Linked DNA regions of Homo sapiens: regions 1 and 3 are each linked to region 2. Evidence: fine-mapped expression QTL. A gene starts in region 2. Each other region holds a variant in brackets. All regions are shown on one strand. Distances are between the middles of the regions. Region 1 has its middle 73 kb from the start of PROP1. Region 2 holds the start of FAM153A (family with sequence similarity 153 member A). Region 3 overlaps COL23A1 (collagen type XXIII alpha 1 chain).

Region 1 (10,849 bases), 140 kb after region 2:
AGTTTGATTTGGGTATTTGGTATATCTTCCATATCTCTACCTAATGTTGAATTTATAGAGCATAATTTTCATAACTGTTTTAATGTACTTTGATGATTTTTTTTTTTTTGAAATGGAGTCTTGTTCTGTTGCCCAGGCTGGAGTGCAGTGGCACAGTCTTGGCTCACTGGAGCCTTTGCCTCATGGGTTCAAGCCATTCTCCTACCTCAGCCTCATGAGTACCTGGGATTACAGGTGCCTGCCATGACACCTAGCTTATTTCTGTATTTTTAGTAGAGATGGGGTTTTGCCATGTTGGCCAGGCTGGTCTCAAACTCTTGGCCTCAAATGATCCACCTGCCTTAGCCTCCCAAAGTGCTGGGATTATAGGCATAAGCCACTGCACCCAGCCTTTCTTTGCTAATTCTTACATCTGTGTCAGTTCTTGGTCAGTTTGATTTATTGATTATTGTCCTCATTATAGTTTGTGTTTTTGCCACCTCTATGCATGCTTGATAATCCCTGATGATTGAATGCCATATGTGAATTTTACTTTGTCAGGTGTTTAATATGTTTGTATTTTTATAAATATTTGCTCTGGAATGCAATTTACTTGGAAATAGTTTGATCTTCCTGGGGTCTTGCTTTTATTATTTGTTAGGAAGGTTTAGAGCGATGCTTAGTCTAGGACTAATTATTCCACATGACTAAAGAAAGACCCTTGTGAGTGCTCCACCCAATGATCCGTGAATTGTTCGATTTTAACGTCCGCCTGGTGTCAGTAAGCACTGTTCTTAGCCCTGTGTGAGTGCGAGATACTACTGCTTTGAATCCTTTCAGATGTTTGTTTGTTTGTTTGTTTCCACAGCCTCAGGTTTCTTTTATATTTTGTTTGTTTTAGAGATGAGTTCTCACTGTGTTGCCCAGGCTGGAGTGCAGTGGCTATTCACAGGCATGATCATCACACACTACAGTCTTGAACTCCTGAGCTCAAGCGATCCTCCCACCTCAGCCTCCTGAGTAGCTGGGACTGTAGGTGTGTGCCCACCATGCCTGGCCTAGCCTCAGGTATTTTTATTGCATACATGAGTTGACCGATACTCTGCCGTTTCCATGAGGGAGACCCACTGCAGATTTCTGGTGCTCTCTCTCTGGGCAGTTACCTTTTCTCTGCAATCTGCTCTAGAAACTCTGCTTTTGTCTCCCTTCCTGGAGTGGAAAATCTTAAGACAAAAGGGAGATCGTAGGTAGATATCAAGAAGAATCTAGTAGAAGAAATTTCTTACTCTCATATGCATCCACAGGCCAATGGAGATATTCAGCCCCAGAAAGTAAAAAGAAGCTTGCTTTCCAAATGATTCATCAGTTAGTGTTTTCTTTCAATGAATGGAAGATTTTAACACAAACAAGAGTTTGTAGGCAGACATTGAGAAGAAGCTCTATCTCCTCAATATAGGGAGTCTGCTGGGATCTGCCTCAGTTCGCCTGCGCTGGGTTATGGTTGGGAATCTCTGTTAATACGGTGATTGGGGAAAATTACAGGGTTTGTCTTATTTTGCATCTCTCAGAGATCACTGTCCTTTGTTGTTGTCTGGTGTCCAGTGTCTTGAAAACTGCTATTTCATTATTTTATTTATATATAAATATATGTATTTTATATATAAAATATTAGATATATGTATATATATATATTTGAGACAGGGTCTCGCTCTGTTGCTCAGGCTGGAGTGCAGTGGTGTGATCTTGGCTCCCTGCAACCTCCGCCTCCTGGGCTCAAGCAATTCTTCTGCCTCAGCTTCCCAAGTAGCTGGGATTACAGGCACCTGCCACCATGCTGGGCTAATTTTTGTATTTTTAGTAAAGATGAGTTTTCACCATGTTGGCCAGGCTGGTATCGAACTCCTGGCCTCAAGTGATCCACCCACCTTGGCCTCCCAAAGTGCTGGGATTACAAGTGTGAGCCACTGTTCCCTGGCCTATTTCATATATTTTTAATGGTTTCTTGGTTGTTTTCAGTGGTAGGATAAATCAAGATTCTGTTACTTCATCTTGGCTAGAAGCAGAAATTCTTTAAGTTTTTATTGTGAGAATTTTCAAAGATACAGAGTCGTTAAAAGAATGATACAATGATTATTTGTATACTTAGCACCTGGATTCAGGAACTGTGTGTGTGAGTGTGTGTGTGTGTGTGTGTGCACGCACGCCTGCCATGTTTATATATTTGCTGGACCATTTGAAACTAAATTGTAGAGGTATCAGGACATTTCACCACTAAATCACTAACTACATTGGCCTGAAACTCCTAAAAATAAGGGCAGTCTCCTGCATAATCACACCACCAGTATCACACCTAAGAAGATGAAATCATTCCCTTTATCATCTGTATTAGTTATCTGCTGCTGGGTAACAAAATACTCCAAAACATAGCATTTAACACCACAAATATTTTTATCTCACAGTGCCCGACGGTTAGAAATCTGAAAGCAGCTTAGCTGGATGGTTCTGGCTCAGAGTCTCTCATGAGGTTGCAATAAAGCTTCCAGCTGAAGCAGACGTCTCCAGGCTTGTTCAGTGGCTGATGTCTGGAAGCCTGAGGTTCTTTCTCCGTTGCCCGATCTAGTCTACCTGAGCATTGTCACAACGTGGCAGATGCCTTCACCAAAAGCAAAGGATCTTTGTGTGTTTGTGTGTGGTCTGTTTGTTTATTTGTTTTCTGGTCGAGGCCCTGGGGTTTGCTGAGCCTTCCCTATTATAGATGAAAAGACCAAGGCCTAATGAGGGGAAACGTCTTGCCTGAGGACACCCAGCCATTCTCTGCTTAGATGCATATGCATTATGAAACCCAAAGGTCCTCTGGCACTGTGCGCTCCAGAACAGAGCCCTCCGCAAACACTGTATTTGAGCTTCACATTTGAAATATGGATTTGAGCATTGTAATAAACAGAACAAAAACCCTTGGATATATTGCATACTAAATGTTAGCATCTGGAGATGGCCAGCACAGTTTCTTCTGCCATTAACTCAGTTGTCAGTAAGTTTGACACTGAAGTTTGTCCTGCTATCTCTGTACAAGTAAAGAGGACCCTAAAAATTGCAAGCAAAGCAAGGTTCTAAATACTGCTAGGATTTTCAACTGCTATTACTTGTTGACCTGGGATTTTCTTAATATATTTGCAACTTTAAAAAGTTTAAAAGTTTTGAAGCTTAAAGTCAGTGCTGAGGTTGAGACATGACTAAATCTGTCATCCATGATATCTAATTTCTTTGTTTGTTTGTTTGTTTTTTCAGACAGAGTCTCGTTCTGTCACCCAGCCTGGTGTGCAGTGGTTCAAGCCATTCTCCTGCCTCAGCCTCCCGAGTAGCTGGGATTACAGGCGCCCACCACCACGCCCAGCTAATTTTTGTATGTTTGGTAGAGACGGGGTTTCACCATGTTGGCCAGGCTGGTCTCAAACTCCTGACCTCAAGCGACCCACCCGCCTCGGCCTCCCAGAGTTTTGCGATTACAGGCGTGAGCCACCACGCCCAGCGGAATTTCTTATTCTTTTTGATCTATCAAAACAACCTCATTGTTCTCAATGACTGACCTTATAATAAGTAAATGTTATAGAACATACAGTGTCATTTTCCTTTTCCAGTAGAGGAAGATTACATTTCCCAGAGTTTCTTGCCTTTGAATAGAGGCCTGTGACTGGATGCTGAGGGCCCCTGGGATGTGGGCAGACATGGAGTTTGTGGCTTCTTCCCCTTACACAGAGGCCAGAGCTGTATCATGGCAGAACCACAGATGGTGGGAGGGTGGGTCTCTGGACCACTGGTTGAGGGGTAGAGAAGATCTGCTAAGAAGAGTTCCCTGACCTGCACCGAACAGTGACAGGAGCAAGAAGCAAACCTTTGTGTGTTAAGCCACTGAGATATTGGGGTTTATTTATTACAGCAGATTCTGGTCTATCCTGACTAATACTGGATCAAACAAATAACATTTTTTGCAAATCAAAACCACAATGAGATACCATCTCACGCCAGTTAGGAAGGAGGTTATTAAAAAGTCAGGAAACAACAGATGCTGGCGAGGCTTTGGAGAAATAGGAACACTTTTACGCTATTGGTGGGAGTGTAAATTAGTTCAACCATTGTGGAAGACAGTATGGTGATTCCTCAAGGATCTAGAACCAGAAATACCATTTGACCCAGCAATCCCATTACTGGGTATATACCCAAAGGATGATAAAGCATTCTACTATAAAGACACATGCACAGGTATGTTTACTGCAGCACTATTTACAATAGCAAAGACTTGGAACCAACCCAAATGCCCATCAATGATAGATTGGATAAAGAAAATGTGGCACATACACACCATGGAATACTATGCAGCCATAAAAAATGAGTTCATGTCCTTTGCAGGGACATGGATAGAGCTGGAAACCATCATCCTCAGCAAACTTAACACAGGAACAGAAAACCAAACACCGCATGTTCTCACTCATAAGTGGGAGTTGAGCAATGAGGACACATGGACACAGGGAGGGGAACATCACACACCGGGGCCTGTTGGGGGGTGAGGGGCCAGGGGAGGGACAGCATTAGGACAAATACCTAATGCATGTGGGGCTTAAAACCTAGATGATGGGTTGATAGGTGCAGCAAACCACCATGACACATGTATACCTATGTAACAAACCTGCATGTTCTGCACATGTATCCCAGAGCGTAAAGTAAAATAAAAATTAAACACAAGTAACATTTCTAATAAAATACAGCTCTTATCTGTTCTGTGTTTTGGGTTCCATGTATTGTTTATTGAAAAGTAAAAAAGTTTTCTGCTACAAAAGGTATCAAAATCAGCAATTG[A/C]GTTTGAAGTCAGAATCTTACAGGTAGGGAACTCAAGGGCTGGAGAGGAGAAATAATTTGTCCAGGGTCACATAGCTGAGGCAGGGCTAAAATCTCGCAGAGGGACATCTATAGTTTTATCCTGTCCTTTCTTTTGGTAACAGCAGCTGAATTTCCTCATCTTCCTGCTCAGGCCACATGCTTCATATGGGACTCATTCTCATCCCTCAGCTCCAGGCCTGGTGAATCTATATCGTCTATCACCCAAGCCTCAGTGATTAGCTTGAGGATGGATGCATGACCCAGTCCAGACCAATCACAGCGAATCCCTGGGTTTTTGCTGGAGCTGCTCTCCGTGGATAGTTGAATCAATAGGATATAAGTCTGGAGCTCCTGGGTGCTATCTCAGTATCTCTAGGTTGAGAATGCAGCTAACACAGAGGAAAGCAGAGCTGAAATGTGGAGAGAGCCAGACGATGCTTGATGGTGTTTGAGCACCTGGATCCAGCCATGCCTGAAGTTGGAGCTTTTAGTTACATGAACCAATAAGTTCCCTTTTGGTTTATGTCAGTTTTGACTGGTATTCTGACCTACACATACGGTTTTGTGCTTTTTTTCACCAAGGGACAGGAATTACTGTATTTTTCTGTTTTACTGATAAGGAAATGGAGGCTCAGTCCATTTGTAATCAGATGCTTCAAGTCTCACCAGATTCAAGGCTTGATGACCTCTCTTTTGTGTTGGGAATGCCCCACACAGGAACTCTTGTTTGCTTCTGCCCCCTGCTTCCGTGCAGACACACTCTATCCTGTTTCACAAGGGGGTGGTAAACCACTACAGAGTAGGTGCTAAAACATCGCTGAAATGAAATAAGGAAAGAATACCCCTTTAAAGAAACGGTGTAAAGTGTATAATGAGGCGATTCATCAAAAAATGCAAATGACTTAGCCCTAAAAGATACCAACTTCACTAATAATTAAGAAATACAAATAAAACAGCTATCATCTTTCACTCATGAGTTTGTCAAAGAGCTAAAGGTTTCCTGACAGCTGAGGGCAGGGAAATAGTCTCTTTCCTGGGCTGAGGCAGTAGGAGGGGAAGGGGCACAGCCTCTTTGGAGGGCACTGTGGCAATGTCTGTGAAATGTAAACAGTGTACAAGCCATTTGCCCTCCAGTTGAGAATGTATTCTACAAAGAAACTCCAACAAATACGCAGAGATGCAAGTAAAAGACTGTCCAGTAGAGAATTATTTTTAATAGCCAAAACCAAAACTGAAAGAAAACAAAACAAAACTGGAAACAAATGTCCACCAAAATGGGTCTACACGAACCCCAGTACATCCAAGACATGGAAAACATTTTAGCTGCAAAAAAGAATGAGGTAGCCCCAGATGTGTGGGGGTGGAAAGGTGCCCAGGGTATACCATGTCGTTAGGGGAGAACCGGATGTGTGATATGATGCTATTTATGCTGAAAATGAAATCTTACCAGAGTTAAGATGAAGATAAGTTGTGAAGTAGAATTAGGGGGTCAGGGGACTTCGTTTTCAATGAATTAATCTTTACAATTTGATTTTTTAAAATTATGAAAATAAGCACCTTACTATTTGTTTACTCATTTGAATACCCAATAATGCACAAAAATTCAGAAGGTACAAGGTGGAGATGTATAATTCTGCAGTTCTCTCAACTATCTGATACAGAATTAATTTATTCCCGGCATGCATTTAGTGTATTTAGAAGAAGGAGGAGAAGTGAGTGAGAAAGGGTGGGGGACACAGGCAGCGGCTGCTCTGCGGTCGGCAGCTGTGGTCAGGTGTGGAGGTGGGCTGCCCTTTTTGGGGTCACTCTATCCTTGGTTTCCTGGCATCAGGCCTTCCTAACCCCGCTGGAGCAGTAGTGAAGGACTTTGGTGATGCCCTGCCCATGGCTCCTGGCTGTGGTTCTTCTTGGTCTGGGTCCCACATCTCAGGGCTACAGGCAGTGAGGCGCTGGAATCCCCCAGGACTGTCCTGCTTCTTGCCAGCTCCCCTCCAGCCAGGCCTGCCTGGCGGATGCCCAAACACTCATCAGGCAAGACAGGTCTGTAGGCAAATATTGATCCCTGTGCGGCTGCGGGCGGTGAGGGGGCAGCAGGTGTGGCACAGAGTCCTGTTTACCTGCCGCTGAGCCTGGCGGGCGCTGCCTATTTGCTGAGCTCCCTTCCCGGCCTGGCTCAGGTGAGGCGAGCTCTGCCCTCTTTCTCCCTCCCTCCTCCCTCTGCTGTGCTGTTCAAGGGGGCTAGTCATTCTTCCCACCTCTTTGCTGGGCTGACTGCTGCTCGTTCTTGTGTCTCAGCTTCCACACTCCCTCTTCAGGGCCTCCCTGTCTACCCTCACTCCAGAGTGGCCGTTGCCACGGCCCACAGTTCCCCACCTACCAGGTTAGTGTTGCTGTTCTCTGCTAGATGCCAGATGAGCAGAGACAGGGACAGTTTTGCTCACCACTATTTCTCCAGCCCCTCCCTTAGGGCCTGGCACTCGGGAGGTGCTCCTCAAGTATTTGAGTGTCAGCCTGAATGAAGGCAGGCAGAGAGCCCTGCATGGGCAAAGGCACAGAGGTGTGACAGAGGGTAGTGAGGGGAGGGGGGCGGTGACGATGTATGGTGGGGAGCGGCAGGACAGGAGGCTGGAAAGTGAGGTGGGGTACTGAGCACCTCCCTGTCCTCCCCTTACTCTGAAAGCCTTTGAATGCCACATCTGGGAGTTCAGATTTTATCTGGTCAGAAATGGGAAATTGTTGGGTAAAGAAAATGCAAATAATACAACCAATGAGAGAATGACAAGCCAGATCCTTCATGCTGAATGGTAAATTCTGAAGTTCCTACAGTGGCCTGTGAGGCCCTGTAGCATCTGCTGCCCACCACACCCCTTCCCCACCTCCTTCCCCTACTCGCTGCAGCCACACTGGCCTGCTTGCTGTTTCCTGAACTTCACAGGTATAATTCAGCCTCAGGGCCTGCTGTGGTCCAACTGTGTCCTTCTGAATCTATGTTGAAACCTAATCCCCAGTGTGAGGGTATTAGGAAGGGGGCCTTTGGGAGGTGAGTAGGTCATGAGGGTGGAGCCCTCACAAATGGAATTAGTGCCCTCATCAAAGAGGCCCACCTTGTCCTTTCCACTGTGTGGGGACATGGTGAGAAAGTGCCATCTGGGAACCAGAAAGCAAGCTGTCTGTCGTTAGACACCGAATCTGCTGGTGCCCTGATCTTGGACTTCGCAGCTTCCAGAATGGTTAGAAGTCAATTACTTGTTTATAAGCTTCCCATTTTATGGTATTTTGTTAGAGCAGCCCCAACAGACTAAGGGCCTTTGCACTTGCTGTTTCTCTGCCCAGATGCTTTTCCCTTGGATATCATGGTTTATCTCCTTTCTTTGTTTGAACCTTAGCCTCCTATGGCACCTTACCAGAGAGGCCTTCCATGACACCATGAACAAAGGAGCGTCACCCCATGCCCCCATGCCCTGATCCTGCTTTATTTTCCTCTCTAGTATTTGTGTCTGTTTACTTGTCTAGTGTATGTCTTTTCCCCAGGGATGTCAGCTCTAAGAAGGCAGGAATATGTCATTTCTCTGGTTCCCTGCTGTGTCCTCTGAGCCCAGAACATGTACCTTTAGGCTCAATAAATGCTTGTAGAATAAATGAATGAATGACTGTGTAGTATTAAGCTAAGCCACCCCAGTCCTGGAATGATGTTAACTGTTGCTCACATGCTCTGTCCTGTTGCCAGATCCCACACACAGCTTTGAGCTCCTTTGCTCTGCACATCAGCCAGGTGGGGAGTGCAGGTCAACATTATTATCTGCCTTAAAAAATAATTATCAATGGCAAAAAACATCATGATCACCTGGACAGAAACCAAAATGAAATGCCTGCAGGCTCCTGACTTGAGCAAATCAATTTCTAAAATATGATGTGCAGGAATTGTGACAAAGAGGATGGAGTCTGCATTTCGAGACAGGTTTTCCCTGTGTTCAATTCCCAGCTCAGCTATTTACTTGCTCTGTGACCTGGGACCATTCAGGCCCCTTCTGTGAGCCTCAGCTATCCCTTCTGTCAATGGAGATAATTATTCCCTTGAAGAGATCTAGTGAAGAAGGCATTTGGACATAGGCATTTCCTGGGCTGCACCATCTACTGTGTATCCTTTTTGGTGCCTGCATAATATTCCACCAAGTAGAGTCACAGGCTTTGTTTAATCAGGTGGCTATTTCCAGACGTGGTAACAATAGCCTCTATTTACTGATCCTGCTAAGCGCCAGGCCAAGCACTGCACCTTCCTCATTTCTCCTTCAGTCCTCACTGCAGCCCCATCAGGTGGGTGCTGTTAATATTTCCATTTTGCACATGAGGTTAGGCAGCTTGCCCAAGGCCACGCAGCCCCACTAAATGGAAGATATGGAGTTGAAAGCCAAGTTGTCAAATCCAAGAGCTTTCATCTCTGTGCTTTGGTGGGACTTTTGTCCCCCATTTTGCAGATGGAAAATGAGGCTTGGGGAGGCCAGCAACTTGCCCAGGGCAACAGCGAGCAGAGCTGGGATGAGTCAGAATCCAAGTCTACCAATTGAGATGGAGTCTCACTCTGTCACCCAGGCTAGAGTGCAGCAGCGCAATCTCGGCTCACTGCAACCTCCACCTCCTGGGTTCAAGCAGTTCTCCTGCCTCAGCCTCCCGAGTAGCTGGGACTACAGGCATGCACCATGACACCGGCTAGTTTTTGTATTTTTAGTAGAGATGGTGTTTCACCATGTTGGCCAGGCTGGTCTCAAAATCCTGACCTCAAGTGATCCACATGCCTGGGCCTCCCGAAGTGCTAGGATTACAGGCGTGAGCCACTGCACTGGCTCAAGTCTACCAGTTCTTAACTTGTGCTTTCCTCCAGACCTACCTTCGTACGCTGGGACAGTATCCATGGGTCTCACTTTTCCTGAAGCGGGACAGTTAAGTGGCTGAGGAGGGAGTGGCCCTCTAGTTTCTGCCCCATACCTAGCTGAAGGCTTCAGGATAAGGAGAATAGTCACTGGTGAGCAGAGGAAACCTATTTCTGCTCTGGAAATGGCTCTTCTCTCCCTTTCTCTTCCCCCACCTCCCCCTGCTACCCCCCAGAGTTCTGTACCAATTAATCAGCAGACAATGGAAGCTCCAGCTGGGACCAAGTGGGCTGGACTCATTAGTGCAGAATGACATTAATATCAAAAATCTTCTGAGACAAATGCAATGATTCAGGGCAGACGCCTATGGAGGGCTGGCTCAGAAGCTGGTGTGGGTGATGGTACCGTGGTCCAAGACAGAGAGAGCCGTGCATATGTGGGTGGACAACCAGGCCGGGTCCCCGGGATGCCTGAGGGGAAGAGGGGGCAAAGCAGCTCTGCCTTGGGCAGGGTCCCTGTCCTCTTGTGCAGCCTGACTTCTCCCTCCTCCCTGCTTGGGGGGCCTGCATGGGTCACTGAGTCACCGAAACCCTGGGCAGGCTGGAGAGGCAGCGAGGCATGGAGGCCTTCAGGGCTGGATGGGCTGGGGCCGGGTCCCAGCTGCATCTCCTCTCCCCTCTCCCTGTGGCTCCAGCAACTCGCTTCCTGTCTTTGGGCCTCTGTGTTTCTTCATCTCAACTATGGGGTGATGATAGCTGCCTCTCAGGCTGGTGAGAGGATCATGGAATGAGGTGGACACATTTTGTAGAATGTGGACTAGAGGGGAGCGAAGGGCATCTTCACCATCTCCTCCTTCTTCATTGTTCTTTACCGAGTGGGGATAAATATCAAAAGTCTTCCTTTAGGGGCAACAGGAATCAAACCAGCTCCCGCAGGGAGCCTTAGAGATAGTTTTGCTTGGTTCCTATGCTCTTCATTTCTTCACTCACTCAGATATTCATTCATTGAGTCATCCACTCACACGTGTACCGAGCACCTCTCACATTGGCATCGATGTGGCACTGGGGATAGAAAGGTGGATGGGACACCATCGCTACCTCGGAGGGACTCTTCGGCTAGTGAGGAGG
Region 2 (9,407 bases):
ATTGTGCATCATTCAAGTAACTTGCATAACTGGAAAAAAACATAACCATTGAATATAGTATAATAGTATAACTACTGATCATAGAGTTCCTTTTACTTGCTTCTAATCTTTTCATTTCTTATAAAACTAAAATATGGTTGACCCATTCAAGGCAGTTCATCACAGAACAAGTCAAAAAGCCAAAAGAATTGCATGCAAGCTGTAGGCTGTGTTATCCACTACTCCCTGCAAGCAGTGGATTTGGTCATTAACAATCAGCAGGACTTTTAACTTTGTGTGCGTGTGTGTGTGTGTGTGCGCACCCGAACGCACATGTGTGTATGTGCACGTGTGTGTGTAAACTATGACAGATAAAACCATTTTGCTTATGTAAGAATATGTAACATAACTTGTGCTTCTCACAAAGGAATTGCTTTTCTGTCTTCTGCACTCAGTAGGTATCTTCAAAAAATAATCTCCTATTCGTATGGGTGCACACTGGTTCACTTTTACAGTTCTTACTGCCATTTATTTATTCTACGAGAAAGGGATTGTTGAGTTCCCGGTTCTAAAGATACTTCCTTAGTGACACAAATTAACAGGTAATACAGTTCACCCTTGAACAGCAAGGGTTTGAGCTGCAGGAGTTCATTTATATGCAGATTTTCTTCTGCCTCTGCAACCCAGAGACAGCAAGACCAACCTCTCTTCCTTCTCAGCCTGAACAACCTGAAGATGATAAAGATGAAGACCTTTGTGAGGATCCATTTACGCTTTATGAAAAGTCAATATATTTTTCCTGCAGATTTTCTTTCTAACAGCTTCACTTGTCTAGCTTACTTTATTGTAAGAACACAGTATATAATAATGCAGCACAAATAAAATAGGTGTTAATCGACCGTTTATGTTATCAGGAAGGCTTCCAGTCAATAGTGGGCTATTAGTAGCTAAATTGGGAAAATCAAAAGTTATACTTAGATTTTCAGCTGCACTGGAATCAGAGCCCCTAACCCCCACATTATTCATGGGTCAAGTGTAATTATGTATTTACTAAATATAAACAATTTATTATAAAAATAAACAACTTATTACAAAAATGAACTAGAAGATCCATATGTATAACAAGTCCAATTTGTTACAATGTGACTATAGAGAAAACATAAATATTATATAGGATTTTCGGGATCATAATTAAGTAAATGATTTTTTTTCAGATAATACTGTTTGAGATTATAAATCAGCTACAACTACCTTCTTAAATAACTCTTAATTCCAAACTAAAGAAGTTAAATATAAGAAACTAATTTACATGTATGTATATATGTATATATACATGCAATTTACACATCTTTTTAAACTTTTCTTTTCCTTCAAAACTACCTTAATCTTACATCTTAATTTTTTTAAACCAAGAGTAGGACCACCATGAGAAATGAGAAATTCACTATCAGAAGTCTTACCTGGATTGTAAGTTTTAAGAATCTTCTTTTTAAGTTCCAAAATTTGGTGTCGAATTCTGTATATAAAAAAGTAATAAATAAAATTGCTATTTTAATACTGAAATAAAAGTTACCATATTAAATTCTTAATGTTTGGTAAATGTGTAATCAAACTGATTCTTTTTTCCTCGCTGGCTAAAACAAAATACATCTTCGCACATCAACGTACTTCTATATCTATTGTCACCTTTGATGGTCACATATTATTGCATCCTATGGATGCAACTGAAATTTACTTATAAGATCCATTCTATGGGTTCTTTTTAAAATAAGTGCTGTGAAAAACAAAGTGCATGTATCTCTATTTCCCAAGGGTATTTTAGTATAATGGAATTGAAGGGTAACGGGCATACGCATTTTTAAAATATAGTACTTACCACCAAATTATCTATTTAAAAAGTAATCAGCAACTTAAACTTCAGGCAGCAGTATAAAAAACATCCTCACACATTGTGGATAGAAAACAGTTTCATTCCTCTTTTAATTTAAATTCTTATACCAGAAAAGCAAAGGCTTTTTTTCCTATTTACATAAGAAACTTGTAGATCTGCAAAAAAGTACTTTGCCCCCTTTTACAGTTTTTGATTATTTGATTTGAAAGAATTCCCTGTAAAATGAAGATGCACTTTTCAGGCCGGGCGCGGTGGCTCACACCTGTAATCCCAGCACTTCTGGATGGCGGCTCACTGCAAGCTCCCCCTCCCGGGTTCACAGCATTCTCCTGCCTCAGCCTCCGGAGTAGCTGGGACTATGGGCGCCCACCACCACGCCCGGCTATTTTTTTTTTTTTTTTTTTTTTTTGTATTTTTAGTACAGACAGGGTTTCACCGTGTTTGCCAGGATGGTCTCAATCTCAATCTCCTGACCTCGTGATCCGCCCACCTCGGCCTCCCAAAGTGCTGGGATTACAGGCCTGAGCCACCGCGCCCAGCCCTAAAATTTTTACAAATGTCATTACAATAGTAAAAGACAGTAGGTGTCATGCAAAAATGTTAAAACCTTGATTTTTTCATTCGGCTTATGTAAAATTGATAATCACAGAAAGAGCTCACATTTTGAGAAAAATGTGTCTTCCCATTCAGGAACACAGAACCCACCTCCCACTTCCAAGTTTCCTTCTAAGAACCTTCAGTAAAGAACCGATCTACACAGGTGGATACGGATGTAAAACGGACAGTTTTAGGTGAGAGCTTTTCGCTACTGAAAATGACTCACGGTTTTTTGTTTGTTTGTTTGTTTTTCTTTTTTGGAGACGGAGTCTCGCTCTGTCGCCCAGGCTGGAGTGCAGTGGCGCCATCTCGGCTCACTGCAAGCTGCGCCTCCCGGGTTCACGCCATTCTCCTGCCTCAGCCTCCCGAGTAGCTGGGACTACAGGCGCCCGCCACCACGCCCGGCTAATTTTTTTTTTTTTTTTTGTATTTTTAGTAGAGACGGGGTTTCACCGTGTTAGCCAGGATGGTCTCGATCTCTTGACCTGGTGATCCGCCCGCCTCGGCCTCCCAAAGTGCTGGGATTACAGGCCTGAGCCACCGCGCCCGGCCGACTCACGGTATTTTTTGATAGAGGAATGAGTTCTCTCATTAGGCACCTCCTATAATGTATATAACACCATGTTTTAAACGTGTAGGTTAAAAATAACACTGTGTATGCTTAGCTTGGTGAGTTAAATCACTCACATTCTCCACCAAGCGCTCCAGCTGGGGAATTATGGGGGATGCAGAGCAGCTGAGGCTCCGTTTGGCACCACCCCTCTGAGGGTGCCCTCTGAGGCCCCATCCCAGGGGCTGCGGGGAAGCCGGGCCTGGGGACCCCCTCCCACCCTGGGCTGAGCCCCCACCCCACTGCCTGTGCTGCCTGTCCCCGGCTTCCAGGTCTCTGCTCCTGCGCGCCAGGCAGCGCTCCACTTCCGCGGCTTCGCCCTTGACAGCGCCCTGTGGATCTTCCGATTCGGTACCCCGAACCCCTGTAGACGTGGCCTAGGGAGCCCCGGACCGCCGGCCCCTGCGGCTCCCAAAGCCGAAGAACTTCTTCAAGGTGGTGAGTTCTTCTCAGACCCCCAACCACTGGCTCCTGAGCCGCGGCAGCTCCGTGTCACCTTTTCACTCCCCCTCGCCCCACACCCAGCCCCAAATCCCCAATCCAACTCCAAATCCCCTATCCAACCCCCAATCCGCGATCCAAACCCCAATCCGTGATCCAACCCCCAATCCGTGATCCAACTCAAAATCCCCGATCCAAATCCCAATCCGCGATACCAAGTCTGCGATCTAGCCCAGAATCCGCGATCCCGCCTGGTCCACCCTTCAGCAGCGACACTGGCGGCCTCCGACCTCTCAGACCTAGTGAGCCTCGCAAAGCCGCCCGGCTCCCGGAAGCCGCAGGTGCAGGCGCCGCTGGGCTCGCGGGTTCTCCTGGGCTGGCCAGGGCTGCCCCAGGACCACGGACGGAAAATCGCAGGCGCGCGGCCCACCCCGCCTTAAGGGGAGGGCCCGCCTGGCCGTGTAGCCCGCCCCGCTCCTCCTTCCGAAGAGAGATCTGGTGCTGGCATGGGCACCCCGCGGCCACCGGAGTGGCTTCCCGGATGAGCCTGGCTTCGGCGCTGACGCTCTGGCCCTGGGGGCTGCCTGGCTGGTGTCAGGTAGCGGAAGACGCCTGGAGAGTCACTCGCTCCTTCCCCCACCCGCCCCCACCGCTGCTCGTGCCAGGACGCGCAGTTTGCAGTTGCAGCTCTGGCACTGGCGCGGGATGGCGGAGCTTCCCTTGGATGGCGTCAGGGTCACTGAGTGCACAGCCTACCTGGTCTGAGGGTCTGCTCCTCCTGGACACCTCTCCGGATCCTGATCCCTGGCGCTGGGCAATCCACAGGATGAGACTCATCGGCTGCTGGCGAAGCCGACCGCCTGACTTTGCTGCCTGGGCGGCTGGCCCCGGGATCCGCGCTGCTGGGGACGCGGGCCTGGTCTGCGGTGTCCAGCCACTTGCTGCGGGCGCGCCACGTCTAGGCTGGTGGCTGCAGCCGCAGCTCCGCGCCTGCGGGGGCTAGTGGGCCTGGTACCTGATGTCCTCAGGGTCAAGTGCATCGCTCCCCCACCTGAGGGTCTGCTCTGCCTTGACCTCCTCCAAGAGCGCAGGGGCCACCGGGGAGGCAATTTAGGAATGCCTAAATGGAAGGAACTATCCTTTCTCTGTCTTTAAGAAATAAGTGGCTTTTGTTGTTGTTTTTGTGATACCCAGCTACAGCAGAAAGCAAAGGGGATGCAGAGGTGAAGGTCCACAGCCAGTTCCTCTACTGATTCCCTCCAGGCATAAATGTTCAATCTAACGGCTTTGGTTGGCACTTTCACCTCAGCACTTACCTATGCCTACAGGTTTGTTCAATGGCAACTCTTGGATTTTGAATTAATACCCAATTATTTCATATTTTAATACCCAAACTATTTTAATAGTTTACCATATCTGCAATCCTGAATTAATTTTTTCTTTGTTTATAAAACAATCACTATAGTAAGATAAAAATCACAAAACACTTCCACATTTCATTGGGCTAAAAAAGCATTAAAACATTATACGTAAAAGATAAAAAATATATTGTTTCATCATAAAAATTATGGCTTTGCAAATTTTTTTTACCTTTAGCTACATTCTTACGATTCTTTAACTTTTCACTGTTATTTTATACATTTTTAAAACAATGCATACCAGTGTTTAAAAAACAAATGCAGCATTTCATCTAGGACTGAACATATAACGCTGGTCAGCTCTTTCAGCATGGTGCAGGTGTGGGCCTCAGGCTGCTTTCTGTTTACATGTATCAAATGACATGACCATCTTAACTGCACAGATACCATCTTCTCGGCTTCTTTCTTCTCCCCCAAAACTATTTAATGTTGCTTTAATGGCAACATCAATTTAACTAGTTTTGTAATTTCTGTATTTAATTGTCACATAACATTATATCCGTTCTTTTTTTTTTTAAAAAAAAAGGAAAGCATACAATCTTAGTTGCTAGGCCAGTTCTTCTGAATCAATTTGAAATCACCTTTTTTCTCTTTCATAATAACTACTTATTTTAATCAACAAGTCAACTATTATTAGATATTAACTTATTTTTTCTAGTTAAAATTTTGCTATCTTTCAAATAATTCCAACTCTTACACACACATTTAATGTACATAACTGTAACATATACATACATAAGCACAGGTTAAGCCAGATCTAACATGAATTTAGATATGCCAAGAAAGCCACATGACCATTATTTACATAAATATGACCAGTGTTCACATTTATCAAGGCCAATGAATATTAAGGTGATTGCTTCAATAAGAAATTAGGTGAAGAATTATTTGTTGAATATTGTCAAACACTTTTTTTAACCTGTTAAAGTTATTTAAGCCTGACCCAAATAATTTTTAAACTTTTTATTCTATCATGCCTATAGACAGCTTCATATATTAACCATTTCTGCTTTCGTGGTCCTTTGAGAATGGTATCTTAGTATGTAAGTGCAATAAATAAACAACTTTTAAAGGAATAAAGAAAATTGATATAAATTAGTCTGGAAAATCTAGTCTGTAGCTGGGCAGCCAGGTGCCCCCAGCTAAACCTCAAGGGATGGTTCTGTTAAAGTGAAGAAAAGAAGAATAGTGTGTAACAGAAGCCTGCTCTGTGGCTCCAGGTTACAGCTGTGGCCACCCAATCTGCCTTGTGCCTCCTTCTTCTCACAAGTACACACTCATCCCAGCCCCAAGCAAGAAAGACCAAAGTCCCTTGCCAGGCGCGGTGGCTCACGCCTGTAATCCCAGCACTTTGGGAGGCCGAGGCGGGTGGATCACGAGGTCAGGAGATCGAAACCATCCTGGCTAACACGGTGAAACCCCGTCTCAACTAAAAATACAAAAAATTAGCCAGGCGTGGTGGTGGGCGCCTGTAGTCCCAGCAGCTACTCTGGAGGCTGAGGCAGGAGAATGGCGTGAACCCGGGAGGCGCAGTTTGCAGTGAGCCGAGATCACGCCACTGCACTCCAGCCTGGGGAACAGAGCAAGACTCTCTCTCAAAAAAAAAAAAAAAAAAAGAAAGACCAAAGGCCCCTTCCGTTACTGTATCCAACCCACAGTGCAGGTCCTGTGGGCCATGTGCTATGCATCCCACCTGCATTCCACCTGGTTCACAAGTGGCTCCTTGATGTCCAGTGACCTATGAAAAATCATTTGTTAGGCCGGACGTGGTGGTTCACGCCTGTAATCTAGCACTTTGGGAGGACAATGTGGGCGGATCACCTGAAGTCAGGAGTTTGAGACCAGCCTGGCCAACATGGTGAAACCCTGTCTCTACTAAAAATACAAAAATTAGCTGAGTATGGTGGTGGGTGCCGTAATCCCAGCTACTTGGGAGACTGAGGGAGAAGAATCGCTTTAAGCTGGGAGGTGGAGGTTGCAGTGAACCGCTATTAAACTCCACTATTCTTTATTGGGCACAACCCAGGAGGTCAACAAATGTATTTTCCTGTTTTTATTTTATTTATTTATTTTGAGACAGAGTCTCACTCTTTTGCGCATCTGCACTCTAGCCCAGGTGACAAGAGTGACACTCCATCTCAAAAAAAAAGGTAATAATAATAATTATTATTATTCGTGGACCTGCTGGGTTACACCCAATAAAGAATAGTGGTGTAGAATCAAAATAGTCCCAATAAAATTTATATATATATATTTTTTATTATACTTTAAGTTCTAGGGTACATGTGCACAACGTGCAGGTTTGTTACATATGTATACATGTGCCATGTTGGTGTGCTGCACCCATTAACTCATCATTTACATTAGGTATATCTCCTAATGCTATCCCTCCCCCCACCCCACAACAGGCCCTGGTCTGCGATGCTCCCCTTCCTGTGTGCATGTGTTCTCATTGTTCAATTCCCACCTATGAGTGAGAACATGCAGTGTTTGGTTTTTTGTCCTTCCGAGAGTTTGTTGAGAATGATGGTTTCCAGCTTCATCCATGTCCCTACAAAGGACATGAACTCATCATTTTTTATGGCTGCATAGTATTCCATGGTGTATATGTGCCACATTTTCTTAATCCAGTCTATCATTGTTGGACATTTGGGTTGGTTCCAAGTCTTTGCTATTGTGAATAGTGCCACAATAAACATACGTGTGCATGTCTTTATAGCAACATGACTTATAATCCTCTGGGTATATACTCAGTAATGGAATGGCTGGGTCAAATGGTATTTCTAGTTCTAGATCCCTGAGGAATCGCCACTCTCTCTTCCACAATGGTTGAACTAGTTTACAGTCCCACCAACAGTGTAAGTGTTCCTATTTCTCCACATCCTCTCCAGCACCTGTCGTTTCCTGACTTTTTAATGATCACCATTCTAACTGGTGTAAGATGGTATCTCATCGTGGTTTTGATTTGCATTTCTCTGATGGCCAGTGATGATGACCATTTTTTCATGTGTCTGTTGGCTGCATAAATGTCTTCTTTTGAGAAGTGTCTGTTCATATCCTTCGCCTACTTTTGATGAGGTTGTTTGATTTTTTTCTTGTAAATTTGTTTGAGTTCTTTGTAGATTCTGGGTATCAGCCCTTTAGTCAGGTGAGTAGATTGCAAAAATTTTCTCCCATTCTGTAGGTTGCCTCTTCACTCTGACGGTAGTTTTTTTTGCTGTGCAGAAGGAGCTCTTTAGTTCAATTAGATCCCATTTGTCAATTTTGGCTTTTGTTGCCATTGCTTTTGGTGTTTTAGACATGAAGCCCTTGCCCATGCCTATGTCCTGAATGGTATTGCCTAGGTTTTCTTCTAGGGTTTTTATGGTTTTAGGTCTAACATTTAAGTCTTTAATGCATCTTGAATTAATTTTTGTAAAAGGTGTAAGGAAGGGATCCAGTTTCAGCTTTCTACATATGGCTAGCCAGTTTTCCCAGCACCATATATTATATAGAGAATCCTTTCCCCATTTCTTGTTTTTGTCAGGTTTGTCAAAGATCAGATAGTTGTAGACATGTGGCATTATTTCTGAGGGCTCTGTTCTGTTCCATTGGTCTATATCTCTGTTTTGGAACCAGTACCATGCTGTTTTGGTTACTGTAGCCTTGTAGTATAGTTTGAAGTCAGGAAGCGTGATGCCTCCAGCTTTGTTCTTTTGGCTTAGGATTGACTTGGCAATGCGGGCTCTTTTTTGGTTCCATATGAACTTTAAAGTAGTTTTTTCCAATTCAGTGAAGAAAGTCATTGGTAGCTTGATGGGGATGGCATTGAATCTATAAATTACCTTGGGCAGTATGGCCATTTTCACAATATTCTTTCTACCCATGAGCATGGAATGTTCTTCCATTTGTTTATATCCTCTTTTATTTCATTGAGCAGTGGTTTGTAGTTCTCCTTGAGGAGATCCTTCACATCCCTTGGAAGTTGGATTCCTAGGTATTTTATTCCCTTTGAAGCAACTGTGAATGGGAGTTCACTCATGATTTGGCTCTCTGTTTGTCTGTTATTGGTGTATAAGAATGCTTGTGATTTTTGTACATTGATTTTGAATCCTGAGACTTTGCTGGAGTTACTTATCAGCTTAAGGAGATTTTGGGCTGAGACGATGGGGTTTTCTAGATATACAATCATGTCATTTGCAAACAGGGACAATTTGACTTCCTCTTTTCCTAATTGAATACGCTTTATTTCCTTCTGCCTGATTGCCCTGGCCAGAACTTCCAACACTATGTTGAAGAGGAGTGGTGAGAGAGGGCATCCCTGTCTTGTGCCAGTTTTCAAAGGGAATGCTTCCAGTTTTTGCCCATTCAGTATGATATTGGCTGTGGGTTTGTCATACATAGCTCTTATTATTTTGAGATACATCCCATCAATAACTAATTTATTGAGAGTTTTTAGCATGAAGGGCTGTTGAATTTTGCCAAAGGCCTT
Region 3 (10,849 bases), 800 kb after region 2:
AGGACAGGAAGGAAGCGGAGACCAGGTCCACCTTCACTTGCTCCGAGTTTTGCCAGGCATATGTGTCCTCAGAGAAACTCACATACACCAGGTGTTCGGAATATGACCGTAGCCACAACTACTTCACAATCTTCCAAGCGAGCAAGTCAATCCATTGATTCCTCTAGTAGCGATGGATAAAAACCCAACTCAAATTGGCCTGGACAGTGATGTCGAGAGGGGCTCGGTCACGAAGCCGCAGTGCTTTTGGCAGTCCCTCAATACCCCTTCAGACTGTGTTTCTCCTTGCGCAGCAAGTCGATGCTGGGAGCTCCAACTTACAGCCGTTGGGGGTGATTTTGCGAAGGTAGTTTTTTCAAGCAAAGTTCAGTTCCCTAAAGCATACTGGCTGAAAAAGTCTTGCCCTGCTGCCCAATAGCCCACTGGCGTTGCCATTCATTATCCTTTTTTTTTAGACGGAGTCTCACTCTTGTCGCCCCAGGCTGGAGTCCAGTGGCATGATGTTAGCTCACTGCAACCTCCGCCTCCCGGGTTCAACCGATTCTCCTGCCTCACCCTCCCAAGTAGCTGGGACTACAGGCGCCCCCCACCACGCCTGATTTTTGTATTTTTAGTAGAGACGGGGTTTCGCCATACTGGCGAGGCTGGTCTCGAACTCCTGACCTCGTGATCCACCCGCCTCGGCCTCCCAAAGTGCTGGGATTACGGGCGTGAGCCACCCACCGAGCCCGTCCTCATTATTTTTCAAAGACACACACGGCTTCTCAGAACCCGCCCTCCAGGGTTCACCATGCTGGGCTGGCGCAGAGACCCATCCAGGCGGTAGGAGCGGGGACAGGCGCGGGGTCGTGGAGGGCCCCGGGCTGTTCCTGATCCTCGAACTCTCTCCTCCCCACGGCCGCGGTCTCCTCCCCGGGCCCCGCGCGCCAGGCCCTGCGAAAAGCCCCAACGGGTCCCCCGGCGACCGCCGCGCCGGCCTCTCGGTCCTGTCCTCCGAGGCGCCAGGCCTCCGCCTCCAGCGCGGGCCTCTCGGGCAGCGCCGCCCCTCCCCCTGCGCGCACGGGAGGCCGCCTGGGTTCGGCTTTGGACCAGGCGAGCAGCGCGGCGCTGGCCGCTCTGCCGGGTCAGCCCCGCGGAGACGTCTTCCCCGCTGCGCCCCGGCCCCAGCGCAGCGCCCGGGGAGCGGCCCCTCCTCGGGCAGCGGCCGGCGCCTGTGTCCCTAGCGCGGTACTGCTTCTGCCTGAGGACTCCCCGCCGGGGTCCTCCCTGTCGCCGTCTGCGCCTCCGCGCCCTGTGGGCCGAGGCCCCGGCGCTCCTCGCTCAGCCCAACTCCCAAGGCCCAGCGGGTCCCTGCTCTGCCGTCCGGGGATCCCGCGGGTGGTCCGGAGCCCGGGGCGCGGCGCGCCGTTCATTCCCGCGTCCTGGCGGGGCCTGCTTCTTCCCGAGCCCTCTCCCTGCGGCTGGTGGTCCCAGCGTGCTGGCCGCGTCTCCCCTCTTCTCGGGACACCAGCCCTGTTGGATCAGGGCCCCCCCACAACGACCTGTGCCACCTCATCCGCCTCTTTAAAGACCCCATCCCCAAGGGCGGCCGCATCCGGAGGCCCAGGGGTGAGGACTTCGCCACGGGAAGGAGGCACACGATTCAGCCCATGACACCGCCACCTCGGCGTGGTGCTGTAGGGGGAAGCTCAGGCACTCACCGAGGACAGGACCCGGGGAATCCGCTGGGGCTTTCAGCAGGGCCTGGCGCGCGGGGCCTGGGGAGGAGACCTGGGGAACAGCCCAGGGCCCTCCCAGAACCCGCGCCTGCCCCCCGCTGCCTGGATGGGGTCTCTGTACCAGCCCAGACCAGAGCGAGTGTCAAGGGGGCTCCTCTGGCCGCGCTGCGCCCCCGCGGGGCAGCCCCAGAAGGGCCATTGCTCAGTCCTCACCAAGACCAGCGAGGCGGATTCGGCCAGCCCCTTTCCAGAAGAGGAAGCCGAGGTTCGGAAAGGTCAACCAACTTGTCCCAGGACGCTGGCCGGTTCAGAGGCAGCTCTGGACTCAGACCCAGGCTTCCCAATTCTAAAGCCCACTGCATGAGCCGTCAGGGCCCAGCTACAGGGTCTTTCGGGGACACTTGGACGGGATAACTTCCACAGTGAGGCGATAAGGTCAGGCTGGTCCCATCTGGGGACCTTATAAAGTCTCTCACTGTCTAAGTGAGATGCCTGTACAGTGCCCACACAGCATGCACACACGTGCATGCACACACCCACATGCACACACACACTCATGCACACACACATGCATGCACACGCCCACATGCACACATTCATGCACACACACACATGCATGCACACACATGCACACACAGGCATACTTACGTGCATATGCATACATGAAACACGTGCACACATACACCCATGTACACACACATATGCACACATGCATACTCCTGGCACACACGTGCACACACACCCATGTACACACACATGCATGCATTCTCCTGGCACACACATACACACTTCCACCCTCACACTAGCTCACGCTCACACACACTCGAGTCCCCTTGACATCATGGGAATCTTCCCTTCCTGACTGCACCACAAGCCTGGTCTGAAAGGAGGCTGCAGGAGGTAATATAACCGCCCAAGCCCCACGCAAAAAGGCGCAGTTAAAGCACAGTCAAATCAATGAGCAGATCCGGCATTTTTTGTGTGATGTTCCTCCCGGGAGGCCCAAAGTTGAGTAGATTTTATTTAAACTGTCTTTTCAAATACATTCTAATTGCTTTATGCCTTGTTTCACAGCTCAGAGTTGGAAACAAATTCCATTTTAGAAGTTGCCATTACCCATTTGCAAGCACCGCCTTCCCCCACCCACCCCTGCCCCCCAAAAATTCCGTGGCTACATCAGGAGAATAGATTTTCTCATTTCCCAGTGTGAAGCGAAGCAGATGTGTGTGAAGCCTCTAGCTCACCAGGTTAACCACGAGCATTTCGCCGTGTTGCCGCCATACCGCATGATTATAAAAGCAGACTTTTTTTTTTTGAGACAGAGGACTCTCTTAATTAAAGCAAATTGATTAGGTATTTGTGTGCCCTTTCACAATGACAAATCCATACAATTATTTTCATGAATAATTTTATTTTTATTTTGGTCATGACTTTTTAAAATTAATGGAAAGTCTCAGTCTGCTCAAATGATAAACCAAAAAATGGGGTCATGAAGCAAATTCAGTCTTTGCATTTCTTCAACAACCAACTCACATTTCTCTGCTCCTTGACTCAGAGGCTGGACATGTGCTAACAGCTTTTTTGCTTCTGTATATCCTTAATAGGATGGCAGAATCCCGGTGTTAAAAGAATCTTAAAGTCAGCCGTGTCACCATGGGACCTCGATTAGCAAACAGATGTAGACATTCCTTCCAAATTCAGTCAAAGAAAAAACTCTAATACCAGCAGCCATGTTCAGGGTGTGCACGACATGCTGAGCGCTTGGGATACATCCCCTTGTTTAATTCTCACAGAAACTTTGTGAGACAAGTACTATAATCCCTGTTTAACAGATGGGCAAACTGAGGTTTGGAAAAACACTCATTTACCGGAGGTCACACAGCTGGAAAATAGCAGTGCTGGGATGTGAACCTGGGTGTCCTCAAGGCTGAAGTCTTTGTTTGTTTGTTTTGAGACGGAGTCTTGCTCTGTCGCCCAGGATAGAGTGTGGTGGCGAGATCTCGGCTCACTACAACCTCTGCCTCCCGGGTTCAAGAGATTCTCCTGCCTCAGCTTCCCGAGTAGCTCGGATTACAGACACCCACTACCGCGCACGGCTGATTTTTGTACTTTTAGGAGAGACGGGGTTTCACCATGTTTGCCAGGCTGGTCTCGAACTCTTGACCTTGTGATCCACCTGCCTCAGACTCCCAAAGTGCTGGGATTACAGGCATGAGCCACCGCGTCTGGCCAAGGCTGAAGTCTTCCCTGCCACTCCACGCATCCATCACTTACAGATGTCTACAAGGATGTCCACACTCGCAGAAAAAGCTGCTGCTCAAAGCCAAATCATTGTTTCCACCAGGTCTGCCATGAGGCTGTGGAAAGGGCTAGGGATTAGGAGTGAGGTTACTGGGTCACCTAGGTTCAGGTGCCCATTGCCACCAGGGGCCAATCGCTGCCCCTCTCTGGGAGGCTGGATCCCATCTTACCCACGATAGAGCAGCTGTAGAGAGAGGAGGCTGTTGAGAAACTAGAGGACATGAGGCCGGGCATGGTGGCTCACACCTGTAATCCCAGCACTTTGGGAGGCCAAGGCGGGTGGATCACTTGAGATCAGGAGTTAGAGAACAGTCTGGCCAACATGGTGAAACTCCATCTCTACTAAAAATACAAAACTTAGCCGGGTGTGATGGCGCATGCCTGTAATCCCAGCTACTCCAGAGGCTGAGGCAGTAGAATCACTTGAACCTGAGAGGCAGAGGCTGCAGTGAGCCGAGATCGTGCCATTGCACTCCAGCCTGGGCAACAGACTGAGACTCCATCTCAAAAAAAAAAAAAAGAAAGAAAGAAACTAGAGGACATGTGAATCCTCTGCCCAGGACACACATGGGACGCACACAGTTGTTTCTCCTATAGCCTCTAGAAGTACGCCGACACGTGACTTTCAGAGGACATCTGCAAGCTTTTTTTTTTTTCCCCAATGGTTCGTGCTTAGTCCTGAAATATGTTTCTGGACATGATGAAGGGATGTTCTCTGCGTGCCTATGTCAACAGTTAAAGATTAATCCTGATTCAACACATGATGAAAACTGCATAAGGGAGAAAGCTGGAGGTGGTGTGTGGCCTCTGGAGAATCTTCCCAAACTGAATTACATTCGTTCACATAACGACAAATCACAGTGAGGACCAAGCACGGTGCCTGGCACCACTAAATGCTGCTCAAGAAAGGTTTCTGGCCGGGTGTGGTTGGCTCATGCCTGTAATCTCAACACTTTGGAAGGCCAAGGTGGGAGGGCTGCTTGAGTCCAGCAGTGAAAGACCAGCCTGGTCAACACAGCAAGACAATAACTTTACAAATTAGCCAGCTGTGGTGGTGCTCACCTGTAGTCCCAGATACTCGGGAGGCTGAGGCGGAAGGATCACCTGAGTCCAGGAGCGGAGGCTGCAGTGAGCTGTCATCACACCACTGCACACCTGCCTGGGTGACAGAGCGAGACTCTATCTCAAAAAGAAATAAAGTTTCCACACCAAACTGATACAGGGGTTTCATTCTGAAATGAAACTTTCAAACTTAAAGGCTTTCTTTGTTATCAATTGCTTTTTGCTTTCGACAACAATGATAAATCCAACTGAAATTAAAAATTCAACTAAAAGATATATTGAATCCACGTTGCCCATTATAAAACTTGAAGCACAATTTCATAATGGTCCCACAGCTTCCGAATACCACAGGAGGAGAAACCTGTCTGTCTCAAACTCAGATGTTCTAAAATTAAAACGAGGCTGAGCGTGGTGGCTCATGCCTGTAATCCCAGCACTTTGGGAGGCCAAGGCAGGCAAATCACCTGAGGTCAGGAGTTCAAGACCATCCTGGCCAACATGGTGAAACTCCAACTCTACTAAAAATACAAAAATTAGCCAGGCATGGTGGCACACACCTGTAATCCCAGCTACTCGGGAGGCTGAGGCAGGAGAATCGCTTGAACCCGGGAGACAGAGGTTGCAGTGAGCCAAGATCATGCCACTGCACTCCAGCCTGGGCGACAGAGTGAGATTCCGTCTCAAAAAAAAAAAAAAAAATTAAAACGAAAAACAAAGCCCGA[AAGACATCCTT/A]CTGTATCCAGTTACTCCACATCCCAAAGAATAACAGAAGAAAGAAACTTTCCCCTCAAAACCACTGACTGTACCATTATCTGCACTAACAAAAATAGGGGGAGGGTGTATGCCACGTTGATAGTAGGATGCAGATTTTCTTGATGGGATATGCAAGATTTTCTTGATGGGATATACGGTACAGTCATCACACATGACCCTAAAGATGAGCCATCACCTGGAAAAATGTGTCTGATGTACAGTTTAAAAGCAAGGTAAAAATGGTATGCATTCTGTGGTTAAAATTAGGTAAGCAAATATCTGTCTACATGATGGATGAGAAAGGATTGCGCAGAAAGTTAAACAGCCCTTGGTTTAGGATGGTAAGATTATAGGGTAACATTCATCATGCTAAATCAAGACATAGCTTGGTTATTTAAAAAAGAAAAAAGTGCGGGGCAGGGGGAACAGGTGCAGTAGCTTAGATCTGTAATCCCAGCATTTTGGGAGGCTGAGGCAGGAAGACTGTTTGAGGCCAGGAGTTCAAGACTGCAGTGAGCTATGATCACACGACTGCACTCCAGCCTGGGAGACAGGACGAGACTCTATCTCAAAAAAAAAAAAAAAAAAAAAAAAAAGGAAGGGAGAGAAGGATGGGCAAGCCATTATGCCATTTCCCGACCTGAGAGTCTAGGTAAAGGAGGCAGCCACAGCTCAGCGGCAGCAGGAGCTGGAGCGCTAATGGGCACGTCAAGGGGCAAGAATGCGATGTGCAGCTGCCTGGAGGAGGGCACTGTGAAGGATCTCCACCTCCCCAACACCCGCCACTGCCCCAGGGAGGGACTCAGAATTATTTCGAGAGAAGGGAGCAACGTAGAAATCTGTGGGGCAGAGAGGGCTCCTCTGAAGGTGCAGGATCACATCCACACTTCGCGAGGTCCTGAAAGCAGAGGACAGCGGGGCACAGGGCTCACAGCGCACCCCTGGCTGCGCCAGCCCCACCTCACAGCCAGAACTGAGGCTCAGAGAGGCCCCCAGGCTCCTCATCTAGAGCCTTCCCCTCCAGCCCTCAGCATTTTCCTCTTCCAGACTCCGCCCTCCAAAAGCACCAAGCAAGGCGTGACTACCCCCAGGCTACATGCACCTCACCATTCCAGGTCCCGAGGACTTGGGGTACTCCCCAGACTCCCCAACCAGGCCAGAGACATCCTCTGAGAACACTCCCCGTGAGAACATTCCCCAGGAAGCTGATGAAAGTGGGCAGAGAAACAGGGACCTGGGAGTAGGTGGCCTGACCTGGGCACACCCGCACTGTCCCAGACTGAGTGCCAAACCCACACACAGGGTTCGCAGACATTCGTCCCTTTCACTCCCTTCTTCCCAGGCAGGCTGCAAACCTAAGGGAGCTCAGGCCTGGCCCTGCGTGCTCTTCCGCCTCTGTGACATTTCTCCCCCTGTAAAACAATGTCAGTAACCTCTGTCTGTACATCTCATGAGGCTGTTGTGGGCAACTTTTAGGATTTGAAGTAACTTGTAAAGCTGACATTTTGTAAGCACAGTATATACAGAGAAACACAGATTTCGACACTGCTACCGATAAACCCAAATTTATCAATGTACATAAACCCCTAGAGAACAAGCACCCACTGGCCTCCCCACTGGATCAAAAATCCTTTCATTGAGTTTCATGCCACTGAGGTGGAATTTCTCTAGAACACAGCTCCAGCTTAGAGCCCAAGCTTCTCACCCTATTCCTTGGATGGTCACCTACTGGTTTTGCCGGCCTCATGTCCTCTCCCTTTTCTTCCAATAACACCACTCCAAATTGTCCTTTGGGATCAGCTTTCACTTCTTGGTCCCTAGAGCTCCAGTGGGGTTGATCGTGCACACACATGAACACACACACACAGACGCAGCTGAGCCTCGCCCATCGAGAGGCTGCCCTGCGGGTCTCAGTGACCAGGACGGGTAATCCGTATTGTTAGATGCAGGCTGTCTGTACTGATAAATGCAGGCAATCCACACTGGTCCATCAGAGGGAATTAGGGAATTTCTGCTGGGACTGTTGGAAAACAGAAACTAACACTAAGGATGTGAATCTGGAGTTGCTGGAAGCTTCCCTGGCACTTTATGGGGAGAGTGAGGGCATCCTTGAGAAATATGGAGCCAAGAGGAAGAAACAAAATCCAGGCACCTTGAGCCGGGCCTACACAGACACTAGCCTGGACTTCTCCGTTACTCAAGCTAATTAATAACCCCCTGCTTTCTCCCCAATTTTTATTTGTTGTTGAAACAGCCTCAGTCTGTCACCCAGGCTGGAGTGCAGTGGCGCAATCATGGCTCACTGCAACCTTAAACACCTGGGCTCGAGCAATCCTCACACCTCAGTGTCTCGAGGAGCTGGTCTACAGGCTTGCGCCACCATGCCCAGCTGATTATTATTTTTTTTGAGATGTACTCACCCAGGCTAGAGTACAGTGCCATGATCTTGGCCCACTGCAACCTCCGCCTGCCGGATTCAAGTGATTCTCGTGCCTCCCAAGTAGCTGGGATTACAGGCACATGTCACCATGCCTGGCTAAATTTGGTGTTTTTAGTAGAGACAGGGTTTCGCCATGTTGTCCAGGCTGGTCTCGAACTCCTGACCTCAGGTGATCCACCCACTTCGGCCTCCCAAAGTGCTGGGATTACAGGTGTGAGCCACTGCACCTGGCCACACACACACACACACACACACACACACACACACCTAGAAATAAATACATATAAATTTTTTTCTTTTTTTTAAATAGAGACGAGGTCTTGCTATATCATCCAAACTGGTCTTGAACTCCTGGGCTCAAGTTATGCACCCACCTTGGTCCCCCAAAGCACTGAGATTATAGGTGTGAACCACCACGCCCCAGCCTGAATTCTTTGAAATTAAGCTGCACCATCTTGGAGTCATGTCACATTGCTATTTGAGGGTAAAAGGATCCAAAGGCATCTAGAAAGGTTGAAGCTAATGGGTTGCTGCTCGGTGAGGGAAGGAGGGACAGCCTGCTCTGGAGACCATGACTGTAACTGCACCTGCTCTGGAAGGGGATTTGGAGGCCACAGTCAGATATGGCTGCTAAGAAAGCCAAGGAGCTGGGGGAAAGGCAGGATAGTAGGGGGTAACAGAGCTTCCCAGACACACCGAGTGGGTGCAGGTGCACTGTATGTGGTCTCTGGTAGACTGACTACCTTGGTCCTTCGGGGCTGGGGAGTGGCTGGTCACCTCCAGCCTAGTGTCCTCTTCCCTTCCTGCAGTGAGGGAAGTGCTACCATTCTTTGCATGTGCTATGATATGGGAAAGCTGGCAAGCAATGTCCTAGAGTGCCACCCTTAGTCACTCACTTCGGGGGCAGAACAGCATCTGCTCAAGGGTTAAAGGCCAAAGACTGCAACCAACGGGACTGTGCCAGAGACAATCCCAAACCCATCAACCTTCCCTTCAGCTGTGGCCGGCAGCACAGCTGGACAGCAGAGCCCCAGGGGAGGCAGAAATTTTGTGGTTGAAGAATGTTCCCAAAATGTGGTCCTTGGGAAACACCAAAGCAGAAGGAAGGCCCAGTTATGAGAACTTAGGCGGGCCAGTGGATGACTGAACCCCCGCTCTGCCCCACCCTCCTCTGGGGTGACAACAGAAACATTCCATGGCCCCAGCAGACACTGGGGTAACACTCCACGGCTGACCCTGGGGTAACACTTGTGGCCCCGGCTGACGCTCAGGTAACACTCTATGGCCCCAGCTGACTCTAGGGTAACACTCCGCGGCCCTGACTGATGTGTGGGTAACACTCCACAGCCCTGGTTGACACTGGGGTAACACTCCACGTCCCTGGTTGATGCTGGGGGTAACACTCCACAGCCCTGGATGACGCTGGAGTAACACTCCACGTCCCTGGATGACGCTGGAGTAACACTCCACAGCCCTGGTTGATGCTGGGGGTAACACTCCACAGCCCTGGATGGCGCTGGGGTAACACTCCACAGCCCTGGATGGCGCTGGGGTAACACTCCACAGCCCTGGATGGCGCTGGGGTAACACTCCACAGCCCTGGATGGCGCTGGGGTAATGCCCTACAGCCCTGGATGGCGCTGGGGTAACACTCCACAGCCCTGGCTGACCCTGTTGGTTGCTCCCCAGTAGCCATGCCCAGTCTTCCTTCCTACCAAAGCCTCGATTCTGTTCCAGCGGCAACACGCCCAGCCTCAGGGGATGAGTCAAGATTGGCCAAAGCCTCCTATGGCGATCGCATTACCCTTGCCAGTGAAGGGGATGGCGACCCTGTGACCTAGCTCTGGCTAGTGGCTGTAAGTCTGCCGAAAGGTGGGAAAGTTTTCCCCTGAATTGAAATTAAAGAGACAACCTCTCAAGAAGACCGCTCTCTTCCCTGCCCCCTTCCCTTCTACCCAGGCTACTCTTGGGTGAAGACATAGGTTCACAGCTGCAGCAGCCACCTTGTGACCATGAGGAAAGGACAAGAGAACGGCAGAGACTGAGTGGTACTCAGGTGTGGCCAAGTCGCTGACAGACCCAGGATGCGCTGACCGTCTTCCAAGCTTCTCCTGTAGTGTGTGCTAAGAAAGGACACTCAGATATTCTGTTACTTCCCATCAAAAGCATATTTACCATCCTGTACTTTTCCTGTCTGTTATCATATTTGCATACATGGGAGCTGTGACCACACTATCAGAGGAGAGGCAGTGGAAGAGGTTGGATGACAGAGCTGGTAAATGGTGGGACCAGGCCTCAAACTCTCTTCTGCTGATAGGAAACCTCAGGCATGGTCTGCTCTGCTCTGCCTCTGGTATAAATTCATTCAGCTTACAGATTCCCCAACCTCAGGGGCCATGCCTCAAATTTTCAAAGCCGATGTGGAAAAGTCCAATCCAAAATGACAAAATATGTCTGTGAAAGGAACGCCCCAATCCTTGGCTCATTCTAAACATGCTACTATTATTATAAAGCTCTCCCAAACTGTTGCAAGGAAAAAAAAAAAAGGACAAGAAAAGAGTGGAGAGAGAAAGTG

The links.
Region 1: its variant is fine-mapped to the expression of FAM153A in whole blood (TOPMed, PIP 0.96).
Region 3: its variant is fine-mapped to the expression of FAM153A in minor salivary gland (GTEx, PIP 0.97).

The regions. Positions count from the first base shown.
Region 1 is chr5:177,917,795-177,928,643 of GRCh38, forward strand. No RefSeq gene overlaps it. Among named protein-coding and RNA genes, the nearest start is that of PROP1, 73 kb to the right of the region's middle. The variant A/C (reference allele first, on the strand shown) is at 4,834.
Region 2 is chr5:177,779,010-177,788,416 of GRCh38, forward strand. It overlaps FAM153A (family with sequence similarity 153 member A), which reads right to left and starts at 3,890. Exons shown (of 23, transcript NM_001413826.1): 1 at 3,734-3,890; 2 at 1,440-1,495.
Region 3 is chr5:178,575,803-178,586,651 of GRCh38, forward strand. The region is part of intron 1 of COL23A1 (collagen type XXIII alpha 1 chain); the gene reads right to left. Among named protein-coding and RNA genes, the nearest start is that of COL23A1, 9.2 kb to the right of the region's middle. RefSeq lists an enhancer at 6,724-7,223. The variant AAGACATCCTT/A (reference allele first, on the strand shown) is at 5,804.